3 separate regions of the Homo sapiens genome follow, and all the other regions are linked to region 1. The links come from fine-mapping of genetic effects on gene expression. A gene starts in region 1. Each other region holds a variant in brackets. All regions are shown on one strand. Distances are from middle to middle.

Region 1 (2,500 bases):
TTTACAATTTAGTTTCTGTTTGGGTAACTTGAAAATATAAACTGCTCTTGAACATAATTCAAAAAAGCGTATTAAAAGTAATAATTACAAATGTAAGCAAAAAATAGGAGGACCTTTTAAGTTTTCTTTTCAAATGATATTCAATTAAAGAAGCCTGCCCTAACACTGACTAGGCAAGGTCCCCCAATACTTCCTTCTTAGTATCTGTCACAATTCTAATTTCCACGTTAAACAAATAATTTACACAAATAAATGTTTATCTCTCCCTACATTGTAAGCTACGAGAGCAGGTAGGCGCTGTTTCCATTTTACTGGGGTCCCCTAGGCACACCTGAGCAATTATTTGTTGAATGAAAGAAAAAAAGCTCTAAGAATGAACATGAATGTCTGGATTTTGTTTTGTTTTGTTTTGAAAGCAACATCATTACTGAAATTAAAAGTTATTTATTCAAAGTAGCTTTTTAAAAATATACCTGGCTCGGCCTTTTAAGCCAAAAGTCTCAAGCAGTCTATTGAATCAGTGAGCTTTGGGAAGAGCAGGTAGTATTAGGAGAGCATACAGTAGGCGCTAAATGAAGAGAACTGACGACTACTACCAGAAAATGGGTAAAATGAGATCTAACCTAGAGACTGCCGACACCCAGCTAAATACCACAATGCCCAGGCTAGTGCTTCCGCGGACTGTGGTGAGAGCACTGATTCCCCTCCCTCCTCTGCCTCATAGGCCGTTTCAACAACCCAGAGCGTTAAGTTCAGCGAAATAGCTTGCGGACGGAAATGAGAGCCAATGCTTAAAACGGCGGGCACCAAACGGGTGTCTCTGGAGTTAAAGATATCCCCCATTCCAACGTCCTTTTATTTTTCTCTCCCATTTTACAAGTGTCAACAGAAAGCCTGAACTGGGGTCATGAAATCAAAGAATGTCACCATAGTCAGGTTTTAAAATATCAGAGTTTATCAAGTTCGTGACACACTGAGTGCCCAAGTCCCCCGAAGAGTCCGGAGGTGGGGGGCTCCCGGGTCGCCCCACCTGGATGGAAGAGAGGCTGCCCGGGAGGAGAACAGGGACTGGCTACCTAGGAAGGGGAGGCGGCGACCAGCCCCCGCAGAGGCGGGGTCCGAGTCCCCAGCCAGAGCCCCAACAAGCAGTCGAAGAACGCGGGCAGAGGCTCCGACATGGCCAGGAGAGCACGCCGCCGCCCGTAGGTGCTCGGGCCTCGCCGAGACCGGGAAGAGGTGGCGCCGCCAGCTTTTCCCAGACCCAGGGGTGGCCCGACAGGCCTAACCCCGCTCCCCGCCCTGCTCCCCCGTCCCCTCCTCCGGCGACGCCCGGCCCGCGGTTGGCCGGCCCGCCGCGCGCTCCGGGACGAGGGCGGGAGGCGAGCGCGCTGGCCGCCGCGCACTCACCATTGTCAACGCCGCCGCCGCGTCCCCCCTACTCCACTCCTCTTCCCTCAGGAGAACTCCCAGCCCCGGCTCCCTCCGCTCCGGCGCTCCGTCACGTGACCTCGGGCCGCCCCTCACACGTGACCGCTCCCTTCCTCTCCCCCACCCCCGCACCCGTCCCTCTCCCAGCCTCCTGCCCCGCCCTGCTGGCCGCCAGGCACTCCGGGGAGAGGCCGCTTGGAGGCGGGGCCTCAGGCTCCACCCTTCGGAGGGTGGAGAGGGGCGGGCAAATTACGTCGAGTGGGCGGGGCCTGAACAGAGGCGGGTTCGCGGGCTCCTCCTCGCCGTCTCTTCGGTCACCGGACGAGCGGTTCCGTGTCCGGCCTCTTTACCGCACCCAGTTCCTCTTTGTGAAAGTTTGAGCGGCTGGGAAGGAAGGAGGAGAGGAAGGATTCATCTGGAGGCTCTCTCCTTGGCTGGGTCCTTGGGTTGCCGAGGCGAGTGGGAGCCCTACTTCCTTAGGCCTCGCAAGAAGAGATGTGCTCTCTTCGTCCACGGCGAGGCGTTCTGCCACCTTGCCTGAACGCAGTCCCGCTCCACCTCCTTCTGAGTCTGGGTTTTCTTAACTTGGCTTTCTCGCCTCTGAAGAGAAGACCAGTAGAAAAAAATCCTAGGGTACAACTTTCATTGCTTCCCAAAGTCCCCAGATGGCCCCTGAGCGACCCACCCTGAGCCTGGAGGGCTCACAAACCCACCGTTCCGCCCAGCCGTTCTGAGAGGGCAAAGGCGCTCCCCCGAAAGTCCCACGGCGCAGCTGAAGACTACGCTGGCCTGAACTGGATCCTCCTCCCTAGTGTAAGCCTATAGGACCTCCAGATGAGGAAAATACTGTGTGGGATTTCAGAGTATAGTGTTGAAGGGCCACAGTGCACTCTATGCATAACCAAAGCAGAAGAAAAATCCATCCCTGAACGCACTATAATTACCCCACCTTAAAACAGAAGTTTGTGAGGCGAGTCCATGAAACAGGTATCAAAAAAAATTTTTTTATACTTAATCCTCAGTGTGAGCCTCAAATTTAAGAGGATTGAAATCAGAGTATCATCTCTAACCG
Region 2 (2,500 bases), 54 kb after region 1:
ATACCCTCGCAGTGCCGGGCACTTAGGCCCTCAGGTTCAAAGTCAACTCCAACCTGTATTAAAATGTCAGGGGAGGAGAGATTAAGGCTAACGTTTTCCACCTGCCCCCCCCCCCACCCCACTTCTTTACACCTTCATTTCTTTTTTAAATGTTCTGGAGTATAAAAAATAACAAAGTAAGCTAAAATAAAATTCTGAGCAGAGATGGAGGACCCCAAGCCACATGGCTTGCTTTGGACCCTGTGTGCACCCTCAGCGCCACCCTCATGGCCCAATGCATACCCAGTGGAAGGAGAGAGGCTGGAAAACTCTGGACACTTTTGTCAGGGCTACGAACAGGAAACCCGCCTAGTGGAAAGGAGCCAGGTCCTCTGGCTTTGGAGAAGAATGGGCTCAGAGAGATGTGAGATACCGGGAAGGTATTTTCAAGCATGCGAGAGAACGTGCTGATCAGTACTTTTCCATCTCCACAGGTGATGGAGCAAGAAAAAATAGTTCTATTTTTTAGTACAAGAGAATTCAGTGAGATTCAGAAAGAATGCCTTATTTAGAAGGAGGTTAAACACCAGCAGAATATAACCAGGGGGAATTTGAAATCTCCAATTTTGCAGTAAAATATCTTTCGACTGAAAAAAAAAAAAAAAAACAAACAACATTCATAGAACAAAGACCATGCTCCTTTTCCCAATTCCTATGGATTCTTATTTATTTATTTATTTGTTTACTTATTTATTTAAATTTAGGACACGCCAAGACCTTTGAGTATCCAATAGATTCTAAACATTAGAGTTACGATGGCAACAAAATGGTGTGGTTGGGAGCTGGGGCTTAGAGTCACACTACTTGGGTTCAAACTTACCGCTTTCTAACTGGGATCTCAGGCAAGTTGTTTAACCTCCTTGTGCCTCAGATTTTCTGTCTTTTAAATGGGGATGATAGGCCAGGCACGATGGCTCATGCCTGTAATCTCAACACTTTGGGAGGCTGAGGTGGGGAGAATTGCTTGAGCTCAGGAGTTGGAGACCAGCCTGGGCAACATAGCTAGACCCCATCTCTATTTTTTAAAGAAATAGAGATCAAAATTACACCATCCTCATAGGAACACAGTGAGGATCAAATAAGCCCATCTGTGTGAAGACCTGGAACGTGGTAATTAAGAACAATGCCAGCCACACAGTCAGTGCCCAGCTCACCATCAGAGTGTGGTAAAGTTAGAAGTTCTGGAAGGCATACGTCATTTCCCAGAGGGGAAGGGCTGGAATAGGGACCAAAAGGGCAATCCTTAGTTTAGACAGAAGCTGCAGGAGACACACTAGATCTGGACCTGAAGGATAGGGAGTTTGCAGGTACAGTAGACAATTGGGA[A/G]GCTGGGAAGGAAAAACAACAGAATCAAAACCTTCCTGAGAAATCATAAACCCATTTGCCTTGGTCTTCTTTAAAGAGGCGAGGAAGGGCTTACTACATGCCAGGCAGGGTGGGTGTGAGAGCTTACCTGGTCCTCACACAGCTCTGCCAGGCTGGCCTTCTGGGTCCCACCAGGGAGAAGGGTTCAAGCCTGGCAGATAAAGGGAAGGAGCAGGCTGAGCACAGTGGCTCACGCCTGTTATCCCAGAACTTTGGGAGGCCGAGAACAGAGGATCGCTTGAGGTCAGGAGTTCAAGACCAGCCTGGGTAACATAGGGAGGGAGACCCTGTCTCTATTTTAAAAATAAAGTGGGGTAGGGAGTCAGAACAGGCCCCAGGTTTCTTTATGTTGACCAGGCCAGGTGGGATTATAATGATAATAATCACATGTAAATTGTGAGCAGGCACTGATGTAAGCACTTCTCATGTACAGTAATAACAGTTTAATCCTCTCCACAGTCCTCTGAAGATTGTACTGCTGAGGAAGCCGAGGATATAATTTGATCGGCGGAGGGTGAGTGCCAGTGGGAGAAATGCAGGGTTCCTGTCCAATCCAGGGCAGGCTTCCAGTGCTCAAGCTGGGGTGGACTCCAGGAGGGCTGACCCCATAGCAGAGAGAGTCCAGATCCCATCAAACCTGTTGTGAAACACAAATTTGTTCAAGTTCAAGCTTGTGAAACACAAATTTGATGGTGTCTTGACCCTCCAAACCCTCCAAAGACACAGACATCTAAGCACGCACAATTTCTTCCTCACAGAAATGTCCATTTAAGGCCTCTTAATCCTGGCCTCAAATCTCATTGGGAAGGGCTTCTTGGATAGAGTCCTTCAACGGCATCTCTTATTCTGCAATGTGCATGTAAAGCAGAGATAGGGAAAGCCCCACAGTGGGTGTGTGAGACAAGACCCCATAGAGGTCCAAGTCCTGAGATAAGCGGGCCCTCAAGACACCTGGCCGCTTGCCTCAGTCCCCTAGAGAGGATAATCATTGCCTCAGGTTAGCCACACAGGACGAGGTCAGGGTCACCCCTGACTGCCCTTCCCAGGCAGGGGAGACAGGAATCAAGGCCACTCACTGCCTGGGCCCAATGTCCCC
Region 3 (2,552 bases), 48 kb before region 1:
AGCTGGGATTACAGGCATGTGCCACCACGCCCGACTAATGCATTTTTGGTAGAGATGGAGTTTCTCCACGTTGGTCAGGCTGGTCTCGAACTCCTGGAACTCAGGTGATCTGCCCGCCTCAGCCTCCCAAAGTGCTGGGATTACAGGCGTGAGCCACTGTGCCCAGCCTGATTGGTGCGTTTTCACAAGCACTGATTGGTACATTTTACAAACCTCCAGCTAGCCAGAGTGCGTTTTACAATCCTAGCTAGAGTGTTGATTGGTGCATTCTACAATCCCCTTGTAAGACAGAAAAGTTCTCCAAGTCCCCACGCAACTCAGAAGTCCAGCTGGCTTCACCTCTCAAAGGGATCTTCCTGTCTCAGCTTCCTAAATAGCTGGAAATACAGGTGCATGCCACCATGCCCAGCTCATTGTTAATTTTTTTGTAGAGATAGGGTCTCATTTTTGTTGGCCAGGCTGGTCTCGAATTCCAGGTGATCCTTCCGCCTCAGACTCCTGAAGTGGCTGAGATGACAGGTATTTTTTTGAGGTTGTTTTGTTTTTAATGCTTATGGCCCAGTCTCTGAGATTCTTATTTTATTGGTCAGAGTAGGACCCGGGCCTGGTTATTTTAAAAGCTTCTAAGGTGATTCTGATATGCAGCCAGGGTTGAGAACCAATGGATTAGACATTGTAACTCTTCATTAAAGACACAAATTTCTTTTTCAGTTTATGACTTCTAATTAGCTGGCTGACTTTTGACTGAAATCACCAAATATTAAATTTGAATTTTTTTCAAATTGGTTATGCTACAAAAAGTCTTGAGCAAAACGGATAGGCATCCTGTATATGACAGTTTTAAGCCAGCCTATTAAAAGCATTATATATCTATTTAAAATTGAAACCAGTAATATTTATAAAAATTCATTATCACAGTTACAGCTTCCTAAACTATTGAACAATCCTATCCTCGACAATAAATCTAACAATGAGAAGAGATTTGAGAACAGAGCTATTTTAATCATGCAAACAGCAAGCTCAGTTTCTGTTTCAAATTCTTTATTATACATCATGGTTGCACAATTTGAGGCTGGTTAAATACAATTGGTTTTCAAAATCTCTTTGAATATTTTCTGGCTTACTACATGCAAATGACCATGAAAATATTTGGCATTTTAAAATTCTGAAACTCTGAATAGGCACTTACATGAAGGAAAACATTACCATTCATAGATATCCACATGTAGAACAGATGCTCCAGCACATGGTGGTACATGGACCCTTTTGCCAGTAAAGTTGGTTCCTGACCATTTTATCAAAGTGCCATAGTAGTAAAACAGGTTTAAAGAAATGTAATTTGGGTTATTTAGCTTACTCATAAAGTAAGGTTAACTGACAAGACTTGCACTGAAGTGCATAAAAAATATTGGTACAAAAACCAATGAACCATAAGTGAAAGTAGTTTCCA[T/G]ACAGCAGGTTTCATTTTGGTTCCTACACTCCACATTTAGTGTATTTGCGATCAGACCCCATGCATATGAATGGATGACTGCAATCTTCTTTTTTAGAGACTTAAAACAAATGACTTGAATTTAGTGTTAAAAAATTAAGAGACTAGATGAAGTTTCAATATGAGTTTAACTAGCCAAAGTTCGAGTTTAATAAACATGAAATTACCCAGATCTAGATAACTACATGCTTCACAGGTCCTCCTGAGTCCCCCATCCCAAAATTTTCCCCTGAAAAGAAAATGAATGTATGAAGAAAATAATATTTGCATACACATGGCAAAAAGATTCCTTAAATTGAAATATATAAATATGTTTCAAAGTATTTATGGAAAAAATAGTTTTAACAAATCTAAAATGCCAAGCTAAGTCAACTCCACATTGCAGAAAACACACAACGGTACTACTGGAATATAGCAAAACTGTTACTTAATATGGCCAAAAAAAAGAAGGCCATAATGACCTGCCACATAATCCCTTGGGGAAAGAAATCTAATATTCATAGCACAGAAGACCTCAAAGAGGATAAAATTCTGGAAGCCATGGAATGGTACTCAGAAGTGCCTGCGGTGAAACACTCCATATGCTTTTCTCAAACACATATGTTAAAAACAAATGTAGTTCTCAAAAATATTGAGATGCCATGTTTTAAATCTCTGCAGGACACAAGAGGCCACTCAGGTTTTCTAATTTTATTTGAACACAAAATATTTAATTTTTTGCATGTAGAGAATAAGAGGTAATCATTAGCCTGAAAAGAGAGGATTTATAATCAACATTATGCAGAAAGAAAGCAAAATTACAAATACCAGCCTACTCACATGAAAATTTTTCATGTTTACGCTGATATATATCTGAGTGCTTATCATCAAAGTAGGAAGTTAAAAAAAAAAAGGCAGCTTAACAAAGTTCCAGTGTTTCAAAGAAAGCACTTTTAAAAATGTATATACATGAACGAACATTTCATTATATCATAAAATAAATGCTGCGCTGTAAGATAAAGGAAGACTAACATATATGGAGTTTTGGCCTTTTTCCGCCCCCTCCAGCTGCAACCATCTTTAA

What was found. PIP is the estimated chance that this variant, and not a neighbour inherited with it, causes the effect. A credible set is the group of variants that fine-mapping cannot tell apart.
Region 2: its variant is the best candidate, but not a certain one, in a credible set for the expression of VPS26A in monocytes after interferon gamma (Fairfax 2014, PIP 0.75).
Region 3: its variant is the best candidate, but not a certain one, in a credible set for the expression of VPS26A in whole blood (TOPMed, PIP 0.56).

What each region holds. Positions count from the first base shown.
Region 1 is chr10:69,123,188-69,125,687 of GRCh38, reverse strand. It overlaps VPS26A (VPS26 retromer complex component A), which reads right to left and starts at 1,510. Exons shown (of 9, transcript NM_004896.5): 1 at 1,408-1,510. The coding sequence starts at 1,410. RefSeq lists enhancers at 546-1,052, 1,917-2,276 and a silencer at 1,257-1,656.
Region 2 is chr10:69,069,636-69,072,135 of GRCh38, reverse strand. No RefSeq gene overlaps it. Among named protein-coding and RNA genes, the nearest start is that of SRGN, 17 kb to the left of the region's middle. The variant A/G (reference allele first, on the strand shown) is at 1,366.
Region 3 is chr10:69,171,334-69,173,885 of GRCh38, reverse strand. It overlaps VPS26A (VPS26 retromer complex component A), which reads right to left. Exons shown (of 9, transcript NM_004896.5): 9 at 1-2,552. Among named protein-coding and RNA genes, the nearest start is that of SUPV3L1, 7.6 kb to the left of the region's middle. The variant T/G (reference allele first, on the strand shown) is at 1,451.